3 separate regions of the Homo sapiens genome follow, and all the other regions are linked to region 1. Evidence: fine-mapped QTL for protein levels in blood plasma. A gene starts in region 1. Each other region holds a variant in brackets. All regions are shown on one strand. Distances are between the middles of the regions. Region 1 holds the start of C1QC (complement C1q C chain). Region 2 has its middle 18 kb from the start of C1QB. Region 3 overlaps C1QB (complement C1q B chain).

The links. PIP is the posterior inclusion probability: the model's chance that the variant is causal. Protein levels are from the aptamer-based SomaScan assay of Sun 2018.
Region 2: its variant is fine-mapped to the plasma level of the C1QC protein (Sun 2018, PIP 0.95).
Region 3: its variant is fine-mapped to the plasma level of the C1QC protein (Sun 2018, PIP 0.95).

The regions. Positions count from the first base shown.
Region 1 is chr1:22,639,068-22,647,067 of GRCh38, reverse strand. It overlaps C1QC (complement C1q C chain), which reads right to left and starts at 3,435. Exons shown (of 3, transcript NM_172369.5): 1 at 3,354-3,435; 2 at 2,864-3,057. The coding sequence starts at 3,044. It overlaps C1QA (complement C1q A chain), which reads right to left. Exons shown (of 3, transcript NM_015991.4): 3 at 7,390-8,000. The coding sequence ends at 7,661.
Region 2 is chr1:22,665,559-22,676,611 of GRCh38, reverse strand. No RefSeq gene overlaps it. Among named protein-coding and RNA genes, the nearest start is that of C1QB, 18 kb to the right of the region's middle. The variant C/T (reference allele first, on the strand shown) is at 9,391.
Region 3 is chr1:22,653,777-22,664,829 of GRCh38, reverse strand. It overlaps C1QB (complement C1q B chain), which reads right to left. Exons shown (of 3, transcript NM_001378156.1): 2 at 5,187-5,390; 3 at 3,193-4,018. The coding sequence starts at 5,367. The coding sequence ends at 3,444. Among named protein-coding and RNA genes, the nearest start is that of C1QB, 6.1 kb to the right of the region's middle. The variant A/G (reference allele first, on the strand shown) is at 1,791.

The DNA of each region.
Region 1 (8,000 bases):
TTTGGCTGGAGGGGAGAGAGAGAGTCTGGTTCAAGTCCTGCTTCTCCACTGACCTGCCCTCTGACCTTGTCTAAGGCACTTCCCTGTCTCTTGGCCTCAGTTTCCACATTTGTGATGAAGCAAGTAGGGAGCTCAGAGCTGGGCGGGATCACAGATGCCATGACTGTCAGCCCACGGACAGATGGCATGTGGCCACAAGTATCTTGTTTGGCCTGCACAATGTTTTTTAAAATTTTTAATTGGAGCCCAACATGAACAAATTCAGAACTTATTTAAAATTTGAAATTCTCAGACCTTCTTGACAAAAAATCAGAAGGTTGGTCAGAGGCAGCTTAAGTTTCAGGTTCTGTCCACTTGCATCAGCCCCTTCAAGACCTTTTGCCTAATTTTGTATTTCTGATTTTTTTCAACTTTTTTATTTTGAAATATAGAGTCAAAGAAAGTTGAAGAAACAAAAGAACAGGGACTCTTCACCCAGTTTTCCCCAGTGACACAGCTTGTATGACTAAAGTATAATGTCAAAACCAGGAAGCTGACATTCCTAGAATTCACAAAGCTTATGTAGACTTCACCAGTTTTATATACACTGTGTGTGTGGTTCCAATATAATTTTGCTACATGTGTAAATTTTTGTAACCACTCTCACCTCTGCAATCAAGCGCATCTTTCAGTTTGTATTATTTTTCATAAAGAAGACCCTCAACATTTTACAAGCTTCAGAGTCCCACAAAACCTATATCTGCTCCTGAGATGGATTCCCCAGGTTAGCACATGGGAACCACTGGAAGGAGCCGAATAGAAGCCGCCCCACTGCAGGGCCTGCTCTCTCCAGCTCACCCCAGCCCCATTCAGCCCACGTCAGCCCCCATGACAGCTGGCCTGGTTCAACTTCCCTCATGTTGCCGATGAGGAAGCCGAGTTAGAGACTTGCCCAAGGCCGTGCAGCCAGTTTGAGGTGGAGTCAGGTCTCTAACTCAAGTCTGGAGAATCCCAGTGTCTCACTCTGTTCCAGCCCTGATGATCTGAGCCTCTGTGAGATTCTTCTCCCCTTATCTAAATCATACTCATCTTTTAAGGGCTGACTCCAGTTTCTTCTTCCAAGAAGCCCTCCTTGACCGCTCCCATCAGCCCTCATGTTTCCTTTCCTCCTCTGACTTCCGTCAGGCTGGGTGACTGTGCAGACCCATTTATGACAGATCCTCTATGGCTTATGAACCTCTTAGGCCTCAGCATTAGGAGTGTGGGGTCGGGACCCAGCAGACCTGGCCTTCACATCTGTGACCCTGGGTGGGTGACCTCCCTCCCTGAGCCTGTATTTGCTCAGTTGAGATACGGGCATAATAGAAGAGGGAGTCCCTGAAAGGGTGGAGTGGGACAGGCACTGTGCCAGGCACACCATAGGAAGCGTGCTCTGGAGTGTCTGGTCCTCGTGATGGCTGCCAGTGATGCTGAGCAGAGCAGCGTCTCATCCTTCGTGATGTCTTCAAACCACCAATTGAGAGGGGGCCAGGAAACAGCAATACAGAGGGGACTTGAGAGGCAGCTGAGGGCAGTGGTGGAGAATGTGGACTTGAGAGTTGGACAGGATCCCACTGTGTGACTTTGGACAAGTTGCTCAATCTCTCTGAACCCCAGCTTTGACATTTGCAAAATGAGGGTCAATCACTTTTTCAAGGGATTGTGGCCTCGGTTTTATCATTTCCTAAAACTGAGACCACACCTGGGACTTGGGGGCTCAATCACGGGTGGCCATCAGCTACCCTGGGCAGGGAGGTGGTCAGAGGCAGCTGTGAAGTACAAGCTCCTGGAAAATGGCAGACCTGGAGGCCTCATTGAGCTTTGAGCTCACCCTAAGCTCACCCTAAATTGGAGAATTCCTTCTGGAATGTTGGTGCCATTCCCTCTATCCAGGAGGGAAGATGATGGTGGGACCACTCCTAAGGACATTCCTCTCAACTGGCCTCCCTCCTTTCCACTGCCTCTGTCACCCCATCACCTCCGCTCAGTGTCACCCCAGGCCGGCTCCAGGCATGCCTAGCATCTGAGACGTGCCCAGCTCACTCACAGACAAGGCACTCATACCCCCCAGGGCTCCAGTTCCAGCCCCAGTCACCCATTCATAGCCTCAGCCCCCTTCTCTTATGCCAAGGATTGCCTGTGGACCTCCAACAGAAGTTTCTCTGGCTGCGATCCTGACCTCCTACTCCCCACCCCTCCAACTATCCAGAATCCTAAGGAGGGAGGTGAGCATGGATATCTGATAAAACCAATGATAAAATAGCCTACACCTGTATAGACCTCCCAGGTGCTCAGGGCTGTTTTATATTTAAGTTAACTTAATCCTCACAGCAACCTTGTGAAGCAGGTGCTACCATCTCCTCGTTTTACAGATGAGGAAACTGAGGCACTGCGAGGTTAAGTAACTTGTGCGGGTTCACATAGAGGGAATCAGTAGGGGCTGGGATTTGAACCCTGGCAGTCGTGCATTGGATATATTCACTGTGTGGGCCCCAGCTTCCCCAGGTGCCCATGTTGCAGGGCAAGAAGACTTTCCCTGCACTGTCTCCTGTGAGCCTCCTGGCCACCTTTGGGGGCAGGCGCTCTTATTCCCTCCCTATAATCGGGTAAGGAGGAGAAGGAAGATGGAAGTGCGCTGGGCCCAAGGTCACCTCTGGGGTGGCCTGAAGCCTGGGCTCTGAGGATAGAGGAGCCAGACACACCGTGAGAGTCCACCTCTGCCCTGGGGCAGGCGTGGCAGCAAGGCAAGCACTTCCTGCTGTCCCCCGCCCCCTTGGTCAGCCCCAGACAGACACTCTGATCCCTGCCCCAGACCCAAACCCCCAAACCAGGCCAGCAGACTCACCTGGCTCCCCCTTGGGCCCCGGCAGTCCGTCGTACCCATCCTTCCCTGGTGCCCCGGGCAGGCCGGGCATCCCTGGGATCCCGTAGCAGCCTGTGTTGGCTTGGCCCCTGAGGGGCAGCAGCAGCAGGAGCAGCAGCAGCTTCAGCCCAAGGTGGGGCAGGGAGCTGGGCCCCACGTCCATCCCGGAGAAGGAACTGGGAGGGAGAGAGCTGAGCTGTCCCCGCCAGCCCCTCACCTGCCCCCAACCCTCTCATTCCCCAGGGCCCGTCCTCCTCAGCCCTCGGGAGCTCGCCTTCCTTCCTCCCCCAGGAGCCTCACCATGGATGGATGGTGGGGCCTTTTCTTCAGCCCAGGCCCCGGGGCCCAGCAGGAGTGGGAACCCTCCTTCCCCTCACACACCAAGCTGCCCCTGGCACCACATTTCAGGAAGGTGGCGGAAGGTGGAGGAAACGGCCATCTGCCCATACCTGGGCAGGGGTCCGGGCCTCACCTGCAGGTGGGCGGTTTCTGGCCTGGCACAGAGATGTCCTCAGATCTGCTTCCCCTCTCCCAGGCAAGAGGACACGGTGTCTGAGTGGTCAGAGCAAGGATTGCCCAAAGCAGGGCTGGGCCCCCTCCCCTTCTCGTGCCCTCCCCCAATCCCACATCCCCTTTCCCAGAATTTTCCCTGACTTGACACTTTCTTTTGGGTGCTGAGCCAGACTGACCACAGCAATACCCCATCCACATCCCCCCACCGGCAGTCAGTGTCCGAAATGAGGAACTGTCCCCTGCCCCAGCATCTGGCTGAGGGTGTGTGTGTGTGTGTGTGTGTGTGTGTGTGTATAAACACAAGCCCCCAGGGCACAGACGTCCCCCAGAGTCAGGTTCATCCCATCTAATGACCAATGTTAGCATTTGCTTTGCCTGAGACTCAGTTTTCCCAGAATCCCTAGGAGGAAGTTATTATCCCCCTTTACAGATAAGGAAACAGGCTCAGGAGGATGTACACCGTTGCCCAAAGTCACACACTGAGTGGTCTCTTGGGGCCCAAAGCCTTGCTCTGACCCCTCTGCTCAGCTGCCCCCAGAAACAAGCCTCACATGCACTTGTCAAGTTGCAAGCCTTGTTCTAGAAACTTCCATGTGCCCCATCCCAGTGGCCACACTTGGAGGTGGACCCCCAGGATGGACCCGCTTTGGCGGCAGGCAGCTGTTGTGGTGCACGGGCTGCCCTGGCTACAGAGCCAGGGCCCTGGCTTCTCCTTCCAGCCCTGTCACTGCATGGACCAGATGCCTTCAGCAAATCACTGGTCCCTCTGGCCTCCCTTCTGTCTACTGGGGTGGCCTTGGCTTTCAGTATTGGTGCCTCTTCCTTCGTTGGGGCACCTGGTCTTCCCTGACGGTTCCATCTTCCCTGCCAACACCACCCTCCTTGCCTGCATCCTGGGGGTGCCCTGCCTCTGGGCTTGGAGCCCACCATGGCTGGTGAGGGGCTCCCCATCAGGACCAGGCTGGCAGAGCTGAGAGGCCTTCTCCCCTCTCCCTCTTCTCCTCACATGAGATTCTAGGGATGAAGGGGCTGTCAGGCAGTAGCAGGGCTCCAGCCTCGACCCCACACCTGCCACCTGTGTCCATTGGTTCCCCCTCTGTAACATGGAGGCTTCTTACAGCTCCAGGCCAGTGGCTGGGATTCAGTGCACAACACACGTGTGATGCCTTGTCCCGTGCCAGGTATGGGCAGGTGTTCAGAGCTCTTCCCCTGCCTCACTGAGGAACCCTCAGGGTCTCAGTCTCCCCTTCTGTGTCTCCACCACGTGCCATGGGACTGCAGAGAGTGTGGGGTGAGTTAAGGGGCATGAACCCACTTGGCCCTAGGAGTCCCTGGTGGGTGGAAGCCTGGGCCGAGAAGAAATGATGGATACTGCATTATGGGGCTGGGGGCCACCCAGCCTAACGGCTCTGGGCTCCTCTCCTCCCTCTTCACCTCCTCTGCGCCTGGGTTCGGCTTGTCCAGCAGGTGGCAGCCTCGGCCCACGCTCAACCCTCCCGTGCCCCGCCCACTTGGCCCCGCTCCGGGCAGCTCCAGTTCATTCCCCTCCCAGAGGGGCCAGAGATTTTGCATCGGGGTAGTGGGTGGATGGTGGGGTATGGGTAGGATTTAGGGTAAGGGGGTGGCCGGGCACTCACTGCACACCCCATTTCTCTAGCTTGGCCTCTACTGCCGCTGATGGAGCCTCCACCCCTGGCATTTTCTTTGCGTGCCCTAACCCTGTGGGGTCAGGCACCCCTGGCTCAGCCCCAGGGCCCTTCCCCTTTCTGGCTGTGTGTCCTTGGGTGGATGTCTGCTTTCTCTGAGCCTCAGTGTCCACATCGATTTTGCTGGGATTAAATACATCAATGGCCGTGGAATGCCCAGCACGTTAGGTTCCCGAAGACCTGTCTCTTTTCCCGGTGCCTGTGAAACAGTGTGTGTTCTGGGTGAGCGAGGCGGGGGGAGAACAGGGCTGAGCTGACTCTGGAAGGGAGCTGAGGGCTACCCTGAGGCTGTGGAGGGTTCATCCTCTCCCTGGGCCCCCCTCACTTCTTCCCGACCCCCAAAGCCTGTTGGCAGGGCAGGGGCAGTCCCAGGAGGGGGTCTTGTACTTTAGAGGTGGGTATTCAGGTTGTGCACTCGAGGACCATGAGGCCATTTGTGCATCTGGCAGTGGATGGGAGGGACAGCCCGTGTTTCTGAGGATGGCCCTGTGGGAGTTTGAGTGTATGTGTGGGTGGTGGGGGGTCCGTGTGGGAGAGAACACAGGCATTCTGAGGCTCGTGCATGCTGGAGTGAGGAGGATGTGTGTCCCCGGGTGAAAGGAGTGTGTCTGGGACACATGCGTAAGAGAGAGAGAATATGCGATGGTTCATGGATGTTACTTGTATGTCTGAGGCAGGGGCTGTGTGGTATGATGGATTGTGCCTCCCTGAGTGTGTCTGTGGGTGTGAAGGCATAACTGGTGTGTGCGTGTGTGTGTGTGTGCAGCACAAAGCTAAACCCAGCTTCCTTTGAGAAACTGCATGGTGCATTGGACATTTTCAGATCTGAACTCCTGGCCCCCTTATTTCTCCTGCATTCGAGGGACAGGGTGGGGTTTGCTGCTTCATAGTAGCTTCCAGACAGACAAATAGGGCCCTGGAATGCACTGTGAGCATTCAAGACTCTCCCAGCCCCCAGCCTGGGCGGAATGTCCATCAGGCAGCAGAGGCAGCAGCCCTGGTCTCCACACCTGCCAGGTGGAAGCCCAGGGCTGGACTCAGGAAACCTAGCTTCAGGAAGGACTGCGGAGTGCCCTTGGGCCAATTGCTTCCCCTCTCTGATTCCTGCCCCTGCCTTCCCAACACAGGGTTGAAAAAGCACCTGTGTGATGTGTCATGTGCTTCATAGAAGCCAGGGAGGCTGGTGAGGGTAGTGGTTAAACACAGGCTTGGGCATCAGTAAGACTTGGGTTCAAATCTCAGCTCCTTCCCGCCTCCCCACCCTCCAATTTTTTTTTTTTTTTTTTTTTTTTTAAGAGATGGAGTCTCGCTCTGTCACCCAGGCTGGAGTGCAGTGGCGCGATCTCAGCTCACTGTAACCTCTGCCTCCCTGATTCAAGTGATTCTCCTGCCTCAGCTTCCCAAGTAGCTGGGACTACAGGTGTGCGCCACCACCCCTAGCTAATTTTTGTATTTTTAGTAGAGACAGGGTTTCACTATATGTTGGCCAGGCTGGTCTCGAACTCCTGACCTCTAGTGATCTGCCCGCCTTGGCCTCCCAAAGTGTTGGGATTACAGGCGTGAGCCACTGTGACTGGCCCCCAGATCCTCCCCTTAGATGCTGATTTGCTGATTGATGCCTACTCCTCGCAGCCTCAGTTTCATCATCTGTAATGTAGGGCCATCATACCATACCCAGAGCTTGGTCATAAAGATTAAATAAAATATAATAATAGCAAAAATTTCCATAGCCCTTGTTATAAACTGAGCACTGCTCTACAATTTTCATATATTAAGTCATTTAATCTTCCCAATGACCCTTTGGGATCATCAGTCCCACTTTACAGATGAGGAAACTGAGATCTCAGAGCTGGGTTAACATGCACATGATTAGACAGCTAATAAGTGGTGGCATCAGGATTCGAACCTGGGTAGATGAGGCTGCTAGGACATGCTAAACACATCATGTGAAATACTAAGAATGGGCTGGGCGTGGTGGCACATGCCTCTAATCCCAGCACTTTGGGAGGCCAAGGCTGGAGGATCACTTGAGGTCAGGAGTTCGAGACCAGCCTGGCCAACATGGTGAAACCCCTTCTCTACTAAAAATACAAAAAATTCACGGGGCATGGTGGCAGGTACCTGTAATCCCAGCTACCTGGGAGACTGAGGCAGGAGAGTTGCTTGAACCCGGGAGGCGGAGGTTGCAGTGACCGAAGATCACTCCATTGCACTCCAGCCTGGGTGACAAGAGAGAAACTCCATCTTAAAAAACAAAAAACAAAAAAACATACTAAGGACGGGCCTGACTCTTAAGCACTGGATTGTTATTATTCTTAGGCCTCCCTCTCAATGCTCCGAGTAGCAACTGAAGCTCATGTTCAGCAGACACAGACACAGATGTTTATTCCAGGAAGAGGTCTAAGAAACGAGCTTCTTAGAGCATGTGTCACGGGGCAGCCAGTCCTGGGGCTCTCAGAGCCAGCCCCCTCCCTTCAGCAGCTGAAGCAATAGCGCCCCCATTTTACAGGCGGAGCATGGAAGCCAGAGAGGTGGGTGGGGGAGGGGGTCCTTCCCTGGCTCAGGCAGATGGGAAGATGAGGAAGCCGCTGAAGACGCTGTCGGCCTCAGAGCCCTGGTAAATGTGACCCTTTTTGGGGTCTTTTTCAACCCAGACCTGGTCACCCTGCTGCAGCTGAAGCACCATGCCCCCTGACACCACCTGGAAGAGCCCCTTGTTGGTGGTGTCACAGAAGCCCAGGGAGCGTCGGACCTGGCCCCTTGAGGAGGAGACGATGGACAGGCAGATTTCCCACTGGGACAGCACCTGGAAGGTGAAGTAGTAGTAGCCGGGTACAGTGCAGACGAATCGGCCGGAGTGGTTCTGGTACGGTTCTTCCTGGTTGGTGATGACCGTGTCG
Region 2 (11,053 bases), 28 kb before region 1:
GTGGGGACCAGGAGAATCTGAGAAAGGGAAGGTTGGGGGCAGCAGAAACTGGAGGGACTTAGCAAGAATAGTCCCAGAAGGGGCTTTTGACAATAGTTTGAGGCCAAGCTCCTAGTGAGAGGTGGAAGCTGGGGAGAGGAAAAGGACAAGAATTATGTCACCCATGAGCTTATTTTGAAAAACTGTTGGCTGGGCGCAGTGGCTCATGCCTGTAATTCTAGCACTTTGGGAGGCCGAGGCGGGTGGATCGCCTGAGGTCAGGAGTTCGTAAACAGTCTGGCCAACACGGTGAAACCCCGCCTCTACTAAAAATGCAGACAAATCAACCGGATGTGGCGGCGTGCACCTGTGATCCCAGCTACTCGGGAGGCTGAGGCAGGTGAATTGCTTGAACCCGGGAGGCAGAGGTTGTAGTGAGCCGAGATCGTGCCACTGCACTGCAACCTGGGTGACAGAGCGAGATTCCGTGTCAAAAAAAAAAAAATTGTTGCGTGCCTGCTCTGCGGTGGGTACTGAGAAAATCAGGAGAAATAAGATCAGGCTCAGTGCTTGGGGCCCTCTGCGTACTAGGAAGACAGATTTGTAGGCAACAAGCTCTAGCCCAGTTTCTCAGCCTTGAGAAAGTGACATTTAGGGCAGATAACTTCTGGTTGGGGGCGGTCCTGTGCATTGCAGGAGGTGTTACAGCATCCTTGGCCTCCACCACCAGATCTCAGTAGCAACCCTGTGACCCCAAAAAGGTCTCCAGACATTGTCAAATGTCCCCTGGGGGGATGCCAACCCCGGTTGAGAAACATTGGTCTAGACCATAATCCTGGTCATTTGTTCATTCATTCCACACATGTCAAGTTCATGCCTATTGCATTTGCCTCTTTGAGGAGAGAGTGAAATAGTTAATGCAGGGATGACATGGGCGTGCGGGTTACCAGGAGGCTCCTAAACAGGTGATATTTGAGCCAGACCTAGAAAGAGATGCTGGGACGGAGAAGATGGGAAAGAGGACATTGTAGGCCGAATTGGCAAAATGGACATTCTGGATTCATTCCTTAGAGGTACTCTGAGGGCCTGCTGTGTGCAGGGCATCTCTGGTGATACCAACAAACTGAGACAGCCCCTTTCCAGCATGCAGAGGCTTTGGGCATGCCGAGAAAGGTCTGCACCCGGTTCAGAGGCCGTGGAGGGATCATAAGTGCTTCCCAGGGAAAGGGAGACAGGGGCTACATCTTGAGGCTTAGCAGGCAGGAGATGGGCAGGCAGGAGAAGGAAGGAAGAGATGCAGACAGAGGAGGCAGCCCCTGCCCAGGCTACAGAGCCTGGGAGCCCAAGGCTTTGGGAGAACTACAAGGAGGCAGCTGGAACCAGGGCATGGCATTCTGACAGTGGAGATGGGGGCATGAAGCTGGAGTGGGAGATGAGGAGACGGACCTACCTGAAGAGCCTGGACTTGATACTGAGTCACTGGGGAGCTATGGAGGGCATTTGAGTAGAGGCATATTTTTGTTTTAGAAAAATCACTGTGGCAGCGGTGAGAAGATGGTTGGAGGGGAGCAGGCAAGAGGCAGGGGGACAGTTGCAGTGGTTCAGGAATGAGATCAGGGTGGCTGTGCACAGGGCGTGCAGGGGACAATCCCACAGACACCCGGGAGGTAAAGGCATTAGGATATGGGCTTGAATGTGGGGTTGAGGGAGCTGGAAGAGGCATCTGGGCAGATGATGGGTGTCTAGCAGGGCAGCCCTGAAATGAATCACCAGATTAGAAACACCAGATAAAAGATTGAGCAGAGAAAGATATGTCCGTGGGTCTCAAAATGAACTGTTTTTGAAACTTTTCCCTTATGCTCATCTTTAAATATCGATAACCAACATTTCTAAAGAGCTTAATGCTCTGTGCCAGGCACTGTTCTAAATGCTTCATGTACATTCACTCATTGAGTCTTTAAAACAATGCATCGAGGGAGTTGCTTTCCATCATCTCCATTTTGCAGATAAAGAAACTGAAGCACAGAGAAGTAACTTGTCCAAGGTTAACTAGCTAGCAAGTGGCTGAGCCAGGATTTGAACTCAGGCAGTTTGGCTCTAGAGTTTGTGCTGTCTGCTATGCTATACTACCAAAACATAGAGTTTGTTTAAAGCCTCCTTAACTTTGGCTATTTATAAAGTCCTGTAATCTTAATATAAAAGTAAAAAAGCAATGGCATTTTATAGGTTGTGGTGGTGGAATGTAAAAGTGGAATATCATCTTCTGGAATCTCAGGGAGTAGTTGGAAAGTGCCTACCGCCACCTGGTGGCAGTGTACCCCAAGTAGAGCCACGACAAAGGCTAAACCCAGTTTCTTTCAGTATTACTTTATGAAACTCCAGGCCAGGGTGATAAGAACTTACTAGTAATATATACACTACTATTATGAAAAATGTGTCATCTATGAGGGGGCAGGAAGAAAGAGAGGAGGCTCCCAATGCCCAGGCTGCGGGGTATATACTCTGAGGGACTGTGACTGTGGGTACTCAGGATGAGGTTGCCATGTCCTGTCCAGACCCTCTCACTAGTTCCCTAGACGACCAGCATTAGGCATTTCTGAAACAGCTGGTGGGAGCTAGGGGTGGGGTGGGGCGTTACTCTGCAAACATGGGCTGTACCCATGACCCCGACCTTCTAATCCCAGGGCTTAACTGACTTCATTAACTCCAGGGGGCTTGAGAGAGACCCCTCCCCAAAATCATTATCTGATAAACCATACTCAGAAAAGTCCTATTCCTGGGGGCCATGCCGGAAAACCTCCTGCGTGAAGGCAGGGAACGGGAGGTGATGCTCCTTGGCTGCAAACCCTCCGCTGCGTGAAAGGGCTGGGTCTGCCCCACCCCCTGCCTGCCAAGGGGCAACGAGGGAGAAAACTGGGTGAAAGCAGAGCATGCCGGGTAGCCCGGCCAGGAGCTGAGCGGTCCAGCCTCCCACCCCCCACTGTGGTTGCCATGGCAACTGAGGAGGGGAGGGAGGAGGAGAGGAGAGACCACTCGTCCCTCAGACAATGGGAACCTATTCCAGGTCACCCTTGGCCTTATCCTGAGGGACTCGGGGCAGTCAGCAGTTCTGGGCTCTTTGTACCCTGCAGCATGGAGATTTGGGGGCATAGTCTTCTGCTCAGGCCAGGCCGGGGGGCCCCAGAATGGGGGACAGAATCCTTGCCCTTGGAACATCCCAACCTTACCAGAGCTTACCCCTTCCTGGGCTCCCAGATCCCCCAAGATGAAGTTGGGTTCATTTTCCAAGGGCCCCTCCCCCATGGAATAGTGTGACCTTCTGTTGTGAAGTGAGCAGTGGGCACAGGGAGGAGGCAGCAGCCACTTTGGGGACAGGTCAAATATTTTATGAGTAATTTAATATCTGGAGCGCGAACCACTGAGCGGAGAACTCGTCAGCTGCCGGGAGCGAGAGCTGGTCTGGTCCTCATAACGCAGGGGCAGGGGTGGTGGGCTGACAGGGACGGACCTGGGGCCACAGGGAAGTTAACCCTTTCAGGGTCCTGGGATGGAGCTAGGAAGGGGCAAGGCCGTGGACCTGCCGTGCACCAGATCCTGAGCCATGCGGTTTGGGTGGCTTGAGCACTTTGAACCTGGGAAGGAAGGGTTGGCCCATTGGAAAGGCACTGGCTTTTAAACGGGGGGACCTGAGTTTGGCTCTTGCTAGCTATGTGACCCTGGACTAGTGTGAGCCTGTGTGAGCCTCAGTTCCTTATGCATGAAATGGGGATGATAGTAATGAGATCTATGCCATTCCTACCACGGTAAGAATTGAGCAATAATGAATACAAAGCACTTAATACAGTGCCCAGGACACAGCAGGCCCTCGATCAGAGGACCTGCCTTCACGACTCTGATGCTGTGTGAAGCTTGCCAGAACCCCTTGAAGCCCCCCAGAGCCCCTCAAAGCCCCCAGACATCCTTCATAGGGATCTCCCCAACACCCAGCTGTGTTCTGGATGCCTTTTCTTGTCCCGGGACCACCTGACAGACTTTCCTACCATTCTACACAAGACATAGCTGTGTTCTGTCTCCTGACATTTGCTTTAGCCTCTACTCAGAGTTTCTGCAGAGGGGGTCCTGTCCAGCCTGGTGGCATGGAAGGGGCCTGGGCCCTGGGTCAGAATCCCAGCTCAGCCACATTCCAGTTCTGTGACCAAGGCCAGGTGCTTCACTTCTCTGGGCCTTCATTTCTTCCTCTATGAAATGTGAGTAACAAAGTGCCGTCCTCGTAAGAATGCTGTCCCAGTTAATGAAGATCATTCTGTAAGGAAGCCAGCACAGCACCTGTTACATAGTAGGTGCTCATTAAATGGTGCTCTTCATCATTGATACTTCAAGAGAGTGGCTTCAGTGCCAGACTGTCTTAGTCCATGCCCCAGCTCTGCCGTGGGCTAGCTGTGAGGACTCGGTCAAATTACTTCCCTATACCTCACTTTCCAGATCTGTGAAATGGGCATAACAGTCACACTTGCCTCATGGAGATTAAATGAGTGAAGATGTGTAAAGTGTTTGGAACAAAACCTGGAACAAGGGAGGAGCAAAGTTGGTGCCAGGCTATTCTCTTTTTCTGAGGTTCAGAAGCAATTTGTGAAAAGGCATCTCCAGTCCCCTCCCCTGCCCTCATCCTGCCATTGGGACTGGGAGACAGGTCTCCCAGGCTACCTTTGTCTGGTGCTCGGGTTGCAGCATGGTGAGCTCTCTCCCTGCCCTGGGTTTATCTTTCTGCCTCCCTGAGGGACTCCAACAGCATCAAGGGCTTCTCCTGCCATAGGAATGGCAGGAGCACTGGTCTCAGAGTCACCTACGCACTGTGTGACCTCAGGTACATAACCCCACTCTCCAGAACGGCTTCTCTTGCCATGGGATTCTGCCCCTGCGTTAATCATGAAATCTCCCTTTTCCACGCAGCCTAGTCCTGACCATTGTTTCACTTCCTGGAAAAAATTCCATGTGCCTGAGCTGAGATGAGCCAGAGATCATCTGGTCCAGTCCCGTCATTTTACAGATTGGGAAACTGAGGCCAGGTATTGGCCTTATCACAGTGCTCCAAAAGGAAGAGCCCGGCCGGGCCAGGGATTTTACAGATGAGGAAACCCAGTCCCAGAGACTGGAGTCACTTATCTGAGGTCACACAGTGAGTCAGTGACTCTGGGAGCAGTGCTCCTGCACCTTACTTTGCCCCCAATTACCTACTTTCAATGTTGTTTCACTGAGAATGTCAAAGTCTCTCCCCACTTGGATCCAAGGAAAGGGCCATTCATTGAGCACCTGTGTCTACAAAGTGGGCAGCTCCATTCCCCAGTGTGCCCCTTTTTGTGTTTTCCTGGTTGCAGTGAGTGCCTGCTCCTGGAGAGGGACTACCCTGGGCAGCTTCCAAAGGTGATCTTTATTTCTTAAGAACCCATGGGCACATATATTATGTCCCCATTTTATAGATGAGGAAACCGAGGCTCTGAAGGGGAGAAGTGACTGCAGGTCACACGACAATCAGGCCTGGCCTGGCGGGGGGCTCAATGGGAGACTGTTCTCCCACTCCCCACGCCTGGCAGGACCTGCGCAGGTTTCCACCACGGTGAACTCGCTCTGTATAAAGCCATCATGGCCTAAGCTGTAAAACAGAAGGAATGAAGACATATTTTTCTGGTCTCCTTCCCCGGAAACCAGCTGGGGCTGGGGCCCGGCGAGGCTGACATTTATGTACTGTCTTTAATCACAGTAGCTGACGTATTCCAAATAAGGTCTGGAGACACCTTGTTAACGAGGGCCCAGCTGTCTCTCCTGTGGATACCTGTGCTGGCATGGGGAGCCCGCCCCGAGATATGCTAACTCAGGCCTGGAGCCTGCAGACAGACCCACCCTGTGGCACGGCTCACGTGCTGCCGCCGCAAGCCCTGCAGAGGCAGGGGCTTGTTGGAATGGCTGGAATCCAGGCTGGAGGGAGAAGGAAAAATTTGTCCTAAGGTGGGCACAGGATTTTTGCCTCTTGTGGCTCACCTGAACCTCACAACAACCAATAGTCACATTCCACAGGTGAGGATGCTAACATTTGTTGAGGGCCTACTATGTGTCTGGGAGGGTGTGTGGTTCTTTTGTTTTGTTTTGTTTTAAGACAGGGTCTTGGTCTGTTGCCCAGGCTGGAGTGCAGTGGTGTGATCATGGCTCACTGCAGCCTCTACCTCCTGGGCTCAACAGAGTTTCTCACCTCAGCCCCCCGAGTAGCTGGGACTACAGGTGTGTGCCATCACACCCAGCTAATTTTTTTATGTTTTGTAAATATAGGGTCCCATTATGTTGCCCAGGCTGGTCTCGAACTCCTGGGCTCAAGCAATGCACTTGCCTCAGCCTCCTGAAGTGCTGGAATTACAGGCGTGAGCCACTGTGCCCAGCCTTGTGTTTCTTTATAACAGCCAGATTTTATTTTATGTCTACTATGTGCCAGGTGGGTGCTTTACATACACTAGCTCATGGAATGCTCATAACAATAGTAGCCAATAGAGTTCCATTTTGTAGCCAAGGATATAAAAGCTCAGAGTCGAGGCGACTTGCTTGTCAAGGTCATCCAGCTAGAAGGTGGCAAAGCAGGAATGAACTCGGTAGGGCTCAAGCAAGAAGCCAGTGAGGGAACCTGCACAATGCACCTGGCATGGCACCTGACACGTCGGAGTTGCTTGGTGCATCCTGCTTTGCTTCCTTTGCCTTCTTTTTGGTGGTTGACTTGTTTACGTCCTCTCTTGCTCCACAGATGCTGTAAGGCAGATTATAGGGAGAAGTATGTGATGAAGCAGGGTGCCGTGGCTCACACCTGTAATCTGAGCACTTTGGGAAGCTGAGGAGGGCAGATTGCTTGAGCCCAGGGGTTTGAGACCAGCCTGGGCAACATGGCAAAACTTCGTCTCTACAAAAAATACAAAAATTAGCCGAGCATGGTAGTGTGCACCTGTGGTCCCAGTTACTTGGGAGGCTGAGGTGGGAAGATCACTTGAGCCTGGGAGGTTGAGGCTGCAGTGAGCCATGATCATGCCACTGCACTCCAGCCTGGGCAAAAGAGCAAGACCCTGTCTCAAAAAAAAAAAAGTGATGAGAAGACATAAATGAGAAGAATCTGCAAAAGCAATGGGAAAATGTGGTTGGAAAGGCAGGAAGACGTAGACAGAAATGAGAGTGGAGGCTACAAAGAAAGTATGGGCCAGGCATGGTGGCTTATGCCTGTAATCCCAGCACTTTGGGAGAACGAGTTGGGCAGATCACTTGAGCTCAGGAGTTCGAGACCAGCCCAGTCAACATGGTGAAACCCCGTCTCTACTAAAAATACAAAAATTAGCCAGGTGTGATGGTGCGCGCCTGTAATCCCAGTGACTTGGAAGGCTGAGGCAGATGAATTGCTTGAGCCTGGGAGGCAGAGGTTGCGGTGAGCCAAGATCACACCACTGTACTTCAGCCTGGGAGCCAGAGAGAGACTCTGTCTCAAGAAAAAGAAAGAAAGAGAGAGAGAAAGAGAGAGAGAGAAAGAAAGAAAGAAAGAAAAGAAAGAAAGAAAGGAGGAAGGGAGGGAGGGAGGAAGGAAAGAAGGAAGGAAGGAAGGAAGGAAGGAAGGAAGGAAGGAAGGAAAGAAAGAAAGGTAGGTTCCTAAAGCCCTGAATGCTCTCTGAGCCCTAGTGGGTTTCTCTGGAGGTTCTCGGGCCTCAGTTGTCCATTGGGTCCTTGCCTCTGGACAGTGGTAATGATGCCCACATCAGGGGCTGCTGTGAGGATGACATGGGCTAATGTCTGCACAACGGGTACGTTCATGAGGCTCAGTTTGGCTTCTCCCTGCCTGCTTTCCTTTCCTTCCAGATGCCAAGCCTTCCCCTGGAAATTGTCCCAAGGGCTTAGGAAACATTATTAGTATAGGCCCTATCTTTCCAGGCAGGACATAATTTTGACAGTCCTTCCATCTTACCTTTCTTCATTCCGTTTGGCAGCTATTCACTGAGCATATATTATGTATATCTGTCTCCAGGTCCTATACTCTCTGGAGTCGATCAGTCAATTAATTAATTAACTAATATAGCCATGCTTTCATGCATTCATTTGATAAACATGAATCTTCCAGGCTCTCTGGGCTGTGAGATGTCAGTTTTGGCCTCCTTTGTTCCCTCCTGGGTCCTGGCCGTGTTCTGCGTAGCTGAGGATTCTGGATAAGTAAGGTGTAATCGAGGGACTGGGCTACTGCTTTCTCACTGGTCGGTGACCTTGTCACCATTCATTACCCTTTTCTTGAGGGCATCACCAAGCTCCCCTAGTTCCTAATCAATAGGCTTGGGGTGGGCTTGACACTATCACAGGCTCCCCTGGTGAGTCTGATGCAAGCCCCTCTTTCTATGGGATAGTCTGAGGCTCAGAGAGGGGTAGCAACTTGTCTGAAGTTGCACAGTAAGTCAGGTTCCGAGACCAGCGTAAAACTGGGAGCTCTTTACTTCCCATCCAGGGTGCCTCCTGCTCTGCCAGGTCCCCTCACTGCGGGTGTCCCTCCCTGGGTGGGCTGCTGGGTTTCTCGAACAAACACCCCCTTTTCTCCTGCATCTAGTCAACAGGGTTGTCTATGAGAATGCCTCCTGGCTATGCACAAAGATAAATGCAGCTTGCAGCTTGCTCTGAAAGGATGGCATGTTTGTGTGTGTGTGTGTGTGTGTGTTGGGTAGGGGGGTGGTTTAAGGCAGGGCACCTGGTGCTCCATTGTCAGCAGGAGACCAGAAAGGCGAGGGCATGGAGGAGAAACAGGAGGGAGACCACAATGCTCAGCGTTGGGGAAACGATGATCCACCCTTTGTCCTTTCCTCTGCCTGACCTTGAACTCCCGCATCCTCACCATCAGAACATCATCACAATGAGCACGATAGCAACAGTACGGGTAACATGTTAATTACAGAGCACTTGCTGTCTACCAGCTCCTAGGCTAACTGGTGCCTATGGATGACGGAATTCAACTTCATAACAAATCAAAATGCTGAACCACCGGTTGGTTCTAACCCTGGCTACCTAAAGCGTGGTCCCAGCTCAGCAGCATCAATGCCTCCCAGCAACTTATTAGAAAAGCAAATTATCAGGCCTCTATCCCAGACCTACTGAATTTGAATCCGCATTTTGACAAGACCCCAGGTGATTTCTGTGTACATGAAAATTTGGGGAACGCTTGCACCACCATAGCATCCTGATTCTAAACAACCCATCACCATAACGACAGCTGCTACTTGTGGGGAACTTTCTGTGTGCCAGGGGCTTTGCACACAGAATCCCATTTAATCCTCATCAGCTTTCTGGAGTAGGTCTGATTATCACCCCCATGTGACAGATGAAGAAACTGTGACCCAGAGAGGTTAAGTAATTAGC[C/T]TGAGAACACGCAGCTTGTAAGTGGTAGAGGTGAGATTTGAACCCAGCCTCTCAAAGCCCCGTAGGCTTTTCTTCTTCGCTGCATTTCTCATCTTTTGTAGGTGCTGACAGACAAAAAGTCTTCTTCCCATTTTCTCTCCCCATATAGCCACTGGATTCCTGGGGGAAGAGGCTGCGTCTACTGCTATTCAAGCTTTCATGTTCATTAGCCCAGCCCCTGGCTGGAGGTGGAGGGCCACCTTGAAACCAAAGCAAGGTATTTGAGAGAAGTGCAGATTCCCAGGCCCCTCCAGATATTGTCTAATCTGATGGAAACAGAACCATCAGCACCTCTGGTATGGTAACTGCATGCTAGCAAGTTTCTAGGGGATCTCATTGCACAGTAAAATAGGCGACCCAGTGCCTCAGATTGCACAGAGATTGCAATGCTCATTTTACTGTTAAAGGCAGTGAGACCCAGAGAGTTTTTCTGCCAGTGTCCCAAGGTTGGGATCTGGCAGACGAACTTACAGGAAGGAGTACTGACTTGGGAGTCAGGCAGTGCTGGGCTCAACTTCCTGCTCCTCTTTTCCAAGGTTAGAGCCATATTTGGGACTAGAGAAGGTTGGCAAACTATAACCCATAGGCTAAATTCAGCCCACAGCCTGTTGTGTGCAGCCTGCTAGCTAAGAATGGTTTTTACATTTTTAAATGGTTGAAAAAAAAACAAAAGGAAAATATTTTGTGACACGAGAATATTATGTAAAATTCAAATTTTAGTGTTCATAAAGATGTATTGGAACATAGCCATGCTCACTTATTTATATATTGCTCATGGCTGTTTTCATGTTACAAAAAGAGGGCTGAATACTTGCAACAGATGCTGTATGGCCTGCAAGGCCTAAAATATTTCCTGGTTGCTTACAGAAAAAGGAGGCAACCCCTGGTCTAAAGCAGTAATTCCCAAGCTTGGCTGCATCAGAATCACCTGGGCAGGTGACTGCTGGGCTCCTGCGTCCAATTTTCTGATTCAGCCAGACTGAGATGGGGCCAGAGAATTTGCATTTCTGACAAGTTTCCAGGCAAGGCTGATGCTGGGACCCCACGTTGAGGACGCTGGTTTAGAAGGAACCTGGGTCTTCAAAGCTGACCTCAGCACCTCCCTGGAAGTTCATAGCCCACCCAGAGAGTGGGAAGGCCTGGGGGAGAAGAGAGCAGGGAGGGAGGAGTTTCCACGGTCCCGCGTAACCACCGGTCCCTTTTCCAGGCAGTCCTTGTCTTGGTGTCTGCTCCCCCCTGGTGGCAGCAAGCCTGGAACAGGCCTGGCATGTTCAGCCTTGACAGCCCATCCCTCCATTTGGAAACACATTTCAAAGCCTTCAAAAGTGCATATCCTTTCACCTGGGGAGTCCACTTCTAGGGGTCTAATCCAAGAAAAGAATCAAGGATCTGCGCCAGGACATCACAGGTGCATTGTTTATTTGTATGGGGGTAAAACAGGAGACCAGGGCAGTCACTTGATGGGAGGCACACAGCTAGTGAGAAGCCCAGGCAGGGTTCGGACTCAGGTCTAAGTCAAGAGCTAGTGCCCGCAACTGCCACCAGCACCACCCTTCGGGGATCCTTCTGTCTGCAGTGACAGAGCAGCAGCTCCAGAACTGACTTGCCGGGCGTTGAACCTGGT
Region 3 (11,053 bases), 16 kb before region 1:
TGAGCCCAGGAGTTTGAGACCAGCCTGGGCAATATGGCAAGACCCCATCTCTATTTAAAAAAAAACAAACAAATCCAGAAGCAACAGCACCCTATGGGAACTGTTAGAAAATGCAAATTCTAGTAAGCCCTTCTTGTGACTGTGATGCTTGCTGAAGTTTGAGAAGCACTGGATTAGAATGATCTACTCCTCAGCTGATTGGGCGAGGAGTATCCTGATTCCAAGCAGGGGCAATTGCATCTCTCTCCTGGGAACTGGGGATTGGAGATGTTAGACTCTGTGTCACTTCTATGAAAGATGGGGGCTAACTTGGGGGTCCAGACGTCATCTGGGGGCATCCGCTTGCCTTCACAGTTGAGAGGGCAGTTCTGCAGAGAGAGATGCAGAAAAGAGAGGTCTCAGAGTAATATCCCAGTCCGGGTCTGGGGGGCACCCAGGTCTCAACCCTGTGTCCACTGAGACTGAGCAGCTCCCCTGCTCCTGGGTTCTTCTGATTACTCCCTTTTTTCTCCCAAGTTTGTTTGAAGGGGCTTCTGTCACTTGCAAGTAAAAGGGTTCTGGCATGTTGAGGGATGGGGGTCAGGATCAAGGGGGTGCATGAGGTTCAAGGGTCATAAGCCTGAGGAGAGCCACTTCCCTTCCTTTCCCTGCCCAACTGCTAGCCCAGGCAGAAGATTTGAGTCCCACTGCCTCTGAGAATGGGACCAAGGGGAAAAGGAAGGTGTCTGGGCAGTGATAAAACAGGTGAGCTACCAGGACTCATCTCAGATCACTTCTGGGTTCCCACACTGTTCTTGGTCCAGGTTCTTGTAATGAAACCTCACTCATCTCCCCAGAGAGCTGTAGGAGCAACCCTATCCCAACTGGTTGGAAAAGAGCCATGATAAAGGTGAAGGCTGAGTGCAGTGGCTCACATCCATAATCCCAGCACCTTGGGAGGCTGAGGCGGGTGGATTGCTTGAGCCCAGGAGTTCGAGACCAGCCTGGGCAAGATGGTGAAACCCCATCTCTACAAAAAAATGCAAAAATTAGCTGGGTGTGGTGGTGCACACCTGTAGTCCCAGCTACTTGAGAGGCTGAAGTGGGAGGATTGCTTGGGCCGTGGAGATCGAGGCTGCAGTGAGCCATGATTACGCCACTGCACTCCAGCCCGGGCAATAGAGCAAGACCCTGCCTCAAAAATAAATATAAATAAATAAATGTGAAGAGTCGAGATGCATGCACGTCTGCGTAGAGCAAGGGATGTTGGACTATGATGGCCATGGCTAGACACACAGTCAGAGCCTGGATTTCTGGCAGGTCTGGAAGCTCCTGGGAGGGCCCGACAAGGGCACTGTTATGAGTGTCCTGACTGCGGGGGTCTGGTGGAGGACAGGGGGCAGGGTCAGGGTTTATGGGTCAGGGGTCCGAGGAGGGTTGGTCTTGCAGAAGAGCCAGGCGGCCTGACAGCAGCTCCCGAGACAAGCAGGCAGGAGCGTGGAGCTCTGACTTCTCAGACAAGCCCGGCTCTGCCTGGGTCTGTGCAGCAAGATGGGGTGCTCTGCGCATGCTCGACACCAGCAGCCAGCTCTGCTTCCGGGTGCAGTGTAGCCTAGCAAGGATGGACCCAACTGCAGAGGCTCGAGAATGTGAACTCCTGAGGTCAGATGGGTTCAGGTGAGAGGTCATGGGGCTGCAGAGGGGGGTTGCTGCAGAAGGGGTTCCAACAGATGTGGATGGCAAGGAGGTGATGAAATCTGAGGCAAACAAAAGCAGGCTCCAAACCTGGCTGTGTAGCTGTCAGCTCTGTG[A/G]CCCTGGACAAATTGCTTGCCCTCTCTGAGTTTTATATTTTTTGTCATGTAACCACATGAGGATGATACTATGTTCCTCCTAGGGGTTGTGGTTGGGAATTAAATGAGCTGATGTGCGCAAAGCACTAGATACACAGTAATTCAATTGTGGTGTGACCATTACTATCATAACTATTAGTATTAGAGTCAAAGGCCAGGCAGTTTGCATTGAAAGGGTTGAGCAGCAGAAATAAGGGCCAGCTCCTGGAGAAAAGATTCTAGGTCTCGGTTGGACCTAGTCTGGGGTTAGGGCAGGTCATCAAGGCCAGGCCCCAGGCCCAGGAGATAGGGCAGAAGCTGCACCCAATGAATGGAATCCTGAGAGACAGGCCAGCCAAACAGGAGGCTGGACTGGTTGACACGGGTGGGACTATCTTAAATCCCTCCCATCTCAGGTCAGGATTGGTTGAGGGTCTTGATGCTGGGGCTAGTAGGAGAGGCTGAGGAGAGCAGGTGCAGAGCTGGGCGGGACTCTGGAGTCCTAGTCCTGTGGTCTCAGCCAATCAGGCAATAAATCTTTACTGAGTGGCTGCTGTCCATCATGGGTTCTGTGCTGGCTCAGAGATGAGCAGGGTGCAGAGCTACAGCCTAGCTGGGGAGACAGGGTGAGGAGCCAAATGCTGGCTGTGCACGCTCTGGGGTAGAGGAGGCCAGAGGAGTGAGCGTGCGAGAGCTAGGGTGTTCCTGCTTCAGGGAGGAGGTGTGGCTTGAATGAGGATGGGTAGATGGGCAGAGTGGAAGGCTTCTAGGTAAGGGAACAGTGCGAGGAAGGGCACTGAGGTGGGCTTGTTTAGAAGACAGAAAGGCCCAGTAGAGTGAGGCTGGAAGGCCAAGTTCATGGGCTGGGACTGTATCTGGTGGGCAGTGGGGAGCCACTGAAGGTTTTTGAGCGGGGGAGTGACATTTACTCTAACTGGATGGCTGAGTTTGTGCTAGGCTGAGAAGATACTGGGAGGAAGGGCATGTGGGGAGAATAAGAAAGGGAAAGGTTCCTGCTCCAAGGTCAGTTAAAGCCTTGGAGGATGACCCCTTGATCCTTGGTAGGGGTAACAGGAAGGGACAAGCACAGAACCCCTTTAGGGGCTGGCCTAGACATGTTGCCTTTAAAAAAGGTCTCAGGCCATCAATGGGCAGGCCTGCCCTTGAATCCCAGCCCTGCTGTGAGATTGTGGACAATCCCTTCATCCCTTCTGATCCTCAGTTTGCTCTTCTGTAAGCTGGGCACGATGCGCCCTCTCCCAGGAGGAGTGTGAGGATTAGTGAGAGAATCAGGAAAAGGTGTAGGCTACCACTGGGAGCATAGTTGGTGCTGGACCCCCACCTCCCACTGTGTGGCTGGCACAGAGCAGCACACGGACAGAGATTTCATTCATTCATGGTTCATTCATTCATGTAACCAACATTTCTGAGCATGGCACTTCTGGTGTGCCAGGTGCTGGGACACAGAGTTGAATTAGACCACTGTCCCTTGGCCTTGAAGAGTTTATTTACTCATTCACTCAGCAGCATTCACCAAGCCCTACTGTGTGCATTGGTTGGGCAAGGGGTGGTGTTGGGGGTAGAGTGAGCGTTGCTGGCAGGGGGAGCCGGGGTGGATGTGAAGCAGCCCACAGGTCAGGCCTCCATATCTGGAAAGAGCAGGAACCCGGAAAAGATGCTGTTGGCACCCTCCATGCCCAGTAGTGAGTTCTTGTCGGTGGCCTGCAGGAAGACGTTCTCCCCCTGCTCCAGCTTGAGGACCATGCCACCGGTGGTGACCTGGAAGGTGTTGTAGGCATAGTCACAGAAGGTGACCACCTTCTGTGCACGCTCCCGGCCACGCATGAGGTTCACGCACAGGTTCCCTCGAGAGCTGGCGTGGTAGGTGAAGTAGTAGAGACCGGGCACCTTGCAGGTGAACTTGCCACTGCGGGGCTCATAATTGTTGTTCATGTTGGTGATCACGTGGTCGAAGCGGATGGTCTGGTCCCGGCGCAGGGGGACGTTGATGGTTCTTGTGGCAGAGAAGGCGATTTTCTGGGTGGCCTTGTAGTCTCCCGATTCACCTTTGGGGCCTGGGGCTCCAGGGGCCCCTGGGCCACCTTTAGGGCCCATGGGGCCCTTGGGGCCGACTTTTCCTGGATTCCCAGGAATCCCTGGGTCTCCCTTCTCTCCGAACTCACCATGGTCTCCAGCCAGCCCTGGAAGCCCTGGAAAAGCAGAGACCAAAGAAGTGAGATCACTGAGACCAAAAGAAGGAGGCCTGCGCTGGAACCTTGGGCAGGGCCCTGCCTCTCTCTGAGCCTCAGTCTCCCATCTGTAAAACGAAGGAGGCAGTGTCAGGCAGGGGCTCTGGGTCTCCCTCCAGCCCAGCTTCCTGAGTCTGTGATATGCTTGACCTTCTTGGGGGCTGCTGATCGTGGGGAGGGGAATGGCTCCTTGCTAAGGAAGGTGCTAGGCCGGCCCTCCTCCCCAGCTTGTGTGGGGGTCCTTCTTCAGCTAGAGCAGGGATAATGAGTGCTGTCTCCCTCTATCCCTCACCCCTGGCAGACATCCCTAATCAACCATGGCCTTCACTCTTGCTGCTCCTGGAAATGGACTTTAGACTCCTTCTCACTCCACCCCCCAAGCAGCCACTACCCCTTGGTTTGGCACAACACAAGATAAGACCGATTTTCCAGTAGAGTGGCAGAGAATAGGGCCTGAGAAGATGGGATCTGGGGACAGAGAGATGTGCTTTGCGTGTCACATCTGCCATTAGTAGTGGTGTCACCTTGACTGAGTCACATTTCCTGAGGACAGCCTCCTCATCTGTGAAATGGGGATGAAGATATTTTGTGGGATTGTAAGGATTAGATGAGATTATGTGAGGAGAGTGACTGGCACAGACAGTTGCTCTATAACGGTAGGTTAAATGAATGAATAAACCAAATTTTACAGAGGGGTTTTCAAGGCTGGGAGTCTCATTTGAACCCCATGACAACCCCAAAAAAGTACCATTGCCCCCATCTTACAGGTGAGGAAATAGCAATTCAGAGAGAAGTCATTTGCCCAGGAGGTAAGTTTAAACACAGGACTCTGTGGCCACAGCGGCACTCCCTCTCCACCTGAATTTAATGGTAAGAGATCCGTGGTCTGGTCTTAGCCTCAACATTTACTGGGCTACCTTGAGTAAGTCAGCAGACTTTCTAGATGCTAGTTTTCCTCTCTGTAAAATGGGAATCAGAATTCCCTCCTTGCAAAGTTACTGCAAGGGTTCAGCAAGCTGCTGGATTTGCCAGTGCTTTTGCAGTCTCAAAGGTAGGCAACTGTGACTTGGGAGGCAGGAGACGGGAAATTTGGTCAGTATTACCAGTGTCCTGCTAAATCCCATGGTACCTTTCTCTCCTTTTATCCCTGGGGTCCCAGGTTGGCCATCGGGGCCAGGTGTCCCAGGGATACCCGGGATGCCAGGGATGGCTGGGGGCCCGGTGCAGCTGAGCTGGGCCTGGGAGATATCGATTAGGCCCAGGAGCAGGAGCAACATCAGTACTGGGATGCTGCCCCATGGGATCTTCATCATCATACTGTGTCAGACGCCTCCTGTGGAGAAGACAATGTGAGAGGTTACCACCGTGGTGATCCTATCATCCATCCATCCATCCATCCATCCATCCATCCATCCATCCATCCATCTCTCTATTCCTCCATCTGCATCCATCCATCCATCCATCCATCCATCCATCCATCTCTCTATCCCTCCATCTGCATCCGTCCATCCATCCATCCATCTCTCTATCCCTCCATCCCTGCATCCATCCATCCATCTCTCTATCCCTCCATTCCTGCATCCAACCATCCATCCATCCATCTCTCTATCCCTCTATCTGCATCCATCCATTCATCCATCCATCCATCTATCTCTCTATCCTCCATCCCTGCATCCATCCCTCCATCCCCCTGTCCATCCATCCATCCATCCATCCATCCATCCATCCATCCATCTGTCTCTCTATCCCTCCATCCCTGCATCCATTCATCCACCCATGCATCCCTCTGTCCATCCCTGCATCCATCCATCCATCCTCCTCTCCATCCATCCATCCATCTCTCTACCCCTCCATCCCTGCATCCATCCATCCATCCATCCCTCCATCCTGCTGTCCATCCATCCATCCCTCCATCCTTCCATCCCTGCATCCCTCTGTCCATCTGTCCATCCATCCACCCTCCATCCATCCATCCATCCATCCTTCTGCCCCTGCATCCCTCCATCCCTCTGTCCATCTATCCATCCATCCGTTCATCCATCCATCCCTCTATTCCTCCATCTGTCCCTCCATCCATCCATTCCTCCATCCATATGTTCACTGATTGTCCCCTATCTACCAGACTCTGTGCAAGGTGCTGGGGATTCAGTGAAGAACAAGACGGATACAGTCCCTGCCCTCCTGGACTTGTGCCCCTAGTGGGGACAGATATAAACAGGTAGATATAAATGGGTCAGCATAAAGTAAATAGAAATAGTGATAGACCGTGATTGGTGCTCTGAAAGAAAGAGAAGGATGCTGGGAGGCAGAGTAACTGGGCTGGAGGTGGGAGGTGGTGGGTTTTGTGAGGGAAGTCCTCCCACCAGGAAAGTCTTCTCCAAGGGGAAGCCACTCTTGGAAGTGATGATTAGGCTGAGACCTGAAGGTCCAGAAAAGGTGGGGGCAAGAATGTTCCAGGAGGACAGAGAATATGGAGAAGGCCCAGAGGCAGGACAGAGGTTAGGATGTTGAGGATCAGCAGGAGGCCAGTATGACAGAGGGGAGCAAGAGTTCAAGTGACAGGAAGCAAGAGTGGAGAGGCAACTAAGCTACTATGAGTTTGGGGTTTTATTCCCCGAAAGCTCTTATTCAGTAGAGCTTCTGAATTCAGGGTATGATGCTGCTTATGAACGGGCCACCTTGCATGCTTAGAGCATCCCTGCATCTACTGTGATTCCTACACCAAAGGGGACACTGAGGCTCAGGGAGGCCAAGTCACTTGCTCAGAGTCATACAGGAAGGAATGAAGCCGATGTCCCTGCCAGCATACCAGGCTGTTTCTGCTGGTAGAATATTCTCAGAGCTGTGACTCTGGCAAGAGGGCAGTGATGGCCCCTTTTTAATCCCAAAGAACTAGGAAGAAGCCGGTGGGCTGTCTCAAACTGGTCAGCATGGCCAGTGTTCCATGCCATTAGCTCTCAGGACAAAGTGGCCTTTAAGTTCATCTAGTTTAACCCTCAGCCTATATATTTTTAACTGAGGCAACATTCCTACAACATAAAATTAACCAATTTAAAGCAAGCATTTTAGTGGTATTGAATACATTCACAGTCTTGTGCAACCCTCACTTCCATCTAGTTCCAAGACTTTTCATCACCCCAAAATAAAACTCTATGCCCGTTAAGCAGTTTCTTCTCAATCCTCCTTCCCCCAGCCCCTGACAACCATGAATCTGCTTTCTGTCCCTATGGATTTACCTATTCCTATTATTTCATATAAATGGAATTATACAACGTGTGACCTTTTGTGTCTGACTCATTTCATTTAGGGTAATGTTTTCAAGGTTCATCCATGTTTCTATGTTGTAGCATGTATCAGTACTTCATTCCTTTTTATAACTGAATAATACTCCATTGTATGGGTACATGTGATATTGCAAAGTATATATTTGGTCTTCTACCTCTTTCCTGGCAGACAACTCCTAAAATCCTTAGAATTTCCAAAGTGAGGTATTTTTGTATGCTAATGATTGATTGATGGCTGCCAGCCCCTAGGTAGCTTCAGGATGGGGCTCGTCACCAGGAAGACCAAGGCAGGCTTAGAGGGTCTACTCTCAGCCCCACCCCCCAACCTCTGGGGAGGGGAGTGGGGCTGAAGGTTAAATTGATTACCAATGGTCAATGGCTTAATCAATCGTGCCTACATAATAAAGCCTCCATAAAAATCCCAAAGAACTAGGTTTAGAGAGCTTCCAAATAGCTGAACACGAGGAGGTTCCTCGGGGGCAGCATGCCCAGGGACCTGGGCATGACAGTGGCACGCCTCTTCCCTCATACCTCACCCTGAGCATCTCATCTGTATCCTTTATAGTATTGTTTATAATAAACTTGTAAACGTGTTTCCCCGACTTCTGTGGGCCACTCTAGCAAAGAATCCAAACCCAAGCAGGGGGTTGTGAGAACCCCAACTTGAAGCTGATTGGTCAGAAGTTCTGGGGGCCTGGACTTGCAAATGGTGTCTGAGGGGGAGCAGTCTTGTGGGACTGAGCTCTCAGCCTGTGGGGTCTGATGCTATTCCTAGACAGTGTCAGAACTGAGTGGAAAGACACCCAGCAGATTTGATTGCTTGCTTGGTGTGTGGGGAGAAACCCCCCACATTTGGTCACAGAAGTCTTCTGTGTTGATTGTTGTGGTGTGAGAGCAGAGGAAAATACCGTTTGTGTCTTTCCACTTACAGACCTTCCACTTACACACTACAATTTGGTTTTGGGGTTTTTGGTTTTTTTTGAGATGGGGTCTCACTCTGTTGCCCAGGCTGGTCTCGAACTCTGGAGCTCAAGCCATCCTCCTGCCTCAGCCTCCTGAGTAGCTGGGATTACAGGCACGCACCATCTCGCTTGGCTATTTGTTTATCCACTCATCATTGGTGGACATTTGGGAAGTTTCCACCTTTTGGCTATTGTGAAGAGTGCTGCTATGAACATTTGTGAACAAGGATTTGAGTATCTGTTTTTAATTCTTTGGGGTTTATACCCAGGAGAGGAATTACCGCTTATGGCAATTCCATGTTTAAGTTCCTGAGGACCCTTCAGCCTATTCTTAAGTTTCCTCAATGACACCTCTGCCAAGGTCCCCCGTGTGGTGCCTCAACGCACTCCCCTGCTGCACAAACGTTGTGTTCACTCAGCCCTAAGAACTAATCACAACGCTAGCTGCACATCACATTATTTCCTTGGAAGAGTCAAGCTGAACTTTCTCAGCAGAGTGTGAGGAAATGACATCTCTGCCAAGGGCTCTTCCATCCATAGTTTGCACCGTTTCAGTGATGGGCAGCTCATTACCTCTCGAGGCAGCCCATTCCACCTTTGCCCAGATCCAAATGTTTTTTCTTCATTCGAAGCTTGGGTCAAAGCCTTCTTCCTCCAGGAAACCTTTCCTCAGAGGCTGAACTGTATCCTCTCTTAAAATGGGGGAGCAGAGTGGTCTCTGCCTACTTCCCAGAGTGGCCACAGGGACCCAGGTGAGACCATGGATGGGAAAGAGTCATAAAGCCTTGAGCCCCAAGCTCTCATTGGGACTTGTGGCTGCTACTGCTATTGCTGCTGTTCTCTGATCCTCTCAACACCCTGGGGAAGTGGGTTGTGATTAATTTCCCATCTTGCAGATGAGGAAACTGAGGATCGGAACTTAGAAAGCAACCTACCCAAAAATCACCCAGCAAACTATTCTAACAGCAGGGTTGTGGCCAAACTCCTACCCTCTCTGCCACATGCTGGCTGTCCCAACCCCAGAGTCTGGCATGTGGAGGGCTCCCTGGGACCAGACAAGGCCTACTGATATTTGGCTCCTATGCTCTGCAAACCAGCCTCAGCCCCTCAGCCTAGTCCTGATCAATTTCTTGCTGAAAGCCCTGAGTTATGCCAGACACTGTGCACCAAGGAAAGGAAGCTGTAAAGATGAGTGTGGCCAGGGAATGCTGGTGACAGCTTTAGGTTCTGTCAGGCTCTATGCTCTGAAGACAGGGTGGCTCAGGGGCATGGTCCTGCTTATCCATGAATAAGCATCAGCTCTCACTCTTGCTCTTGCTAAAGGTTTTACAAAATGGCAATTTAACAACTTTAATAAGTTGGGTACGTATAGGCCAGGCTCTGAGCCAGATGGCTTGCATGCCATTATCCCCTGTAATTTGATATTCAGCCCCTGAGAATGCACTCTTGCTTTCTTATTTTACAGATGAGGCAACGGGATCAGAGAGGGCAAGCACCTTGATAAAAGTCACACAGCTCCTGTGTGGCTGGGAGTCAAACCCACATCCACTGGATCTTAAAACTCAATGTTATGTTAAGAGGCCACTGTACCTGGTGGTAAAAACATAAACTTTGAAGCCAGACAGCCTGATAAAAGGACTAATGCATGGGACACACCAAGGGTAGTGGTAGGCACATGGTCAGTGTTCGGTGAAAGTGGCTTTTTACCACCACGATGATTGCTGCTCTTGTTAGGCAGCACACATTCACCTGGTGGCGGGAGCCTGTAGTGTCACAAGGAAAGCAACACTCAGCGTTCACATAAGGTCTCTACTGCTTCTTAGCTAAGGGACTTGGGAAATCACTCCTTCTCTCTGGCCACAGTTTACCCTCCTATAAAGTGGGGATAATGCTACTCTCTCCCTCATAGGGTATGTGCGAGGACATGAGTTACAGCTTCCAACAGAGCCTGGCATGTTGGAAATTCTTAATGAATATTAGCTATTTTATTATTATCACTGTCATCCAAGAATTCCTGAGTGGTTGAACAGAAGGGAAGATGGTTGGAGAAGTAAAAAAAGACAATCCCTTTGAAAGACTGTGTTTAGAGGGAGGGGCTCTGTCAGTTGGAGGCAGCAAGGGGTGGAGAGCTGTGACCAGTTGGTGGGGAGAGAGGGTGGGGAGCAGGGTACTGACAGGACTTGGGCTTCCTGGGGAAGCCAGGGGCAGGGGGAGTGGGAAAGTGCTGGTTCTAGCCCATTTCAAAAGCCACCGAGTTTCAGCCTTGGGTTAGGGCTTACAACTCATCTGGTTTAACTGCCTCCTGCCTGTGCCAGCCCATCATCATTGCCAGCGCGGTTTCTCCTGTCCTCCCCCCAGGCTCTGACCTTTCCATCTCCTTCGGTCCAGCAGTCCCTTTCCGCAACATGGAGTCAGGCCCACTTGACTTTAAAGCCCCATCTGCTACCGGCTGCATAACCTCAGGCAAGTGCCTTAACCTCTCTGAGCCTCTTGGCAATGCTGATTTCAACCTGACAGGGCTGCCAGAAGGATGACAGGAGAAGGCGCTTAGAAGAAATAAGGTCCCCCCTGCCCCGTGCAGTGCCACATCCCACTCCCCAGCTGCACAAACATTGCGCTCACTCAGTACTAGCTGAGAACTCATCGTAACTCTACCTGCACATCCCCTTATTTCTTTGGAAGAGTCAAGCTGAGCTTTCTCAGCGAGTATGAGGAAATAAGCAAGGTGTTGGGGAAATGCTGGGCCGGGC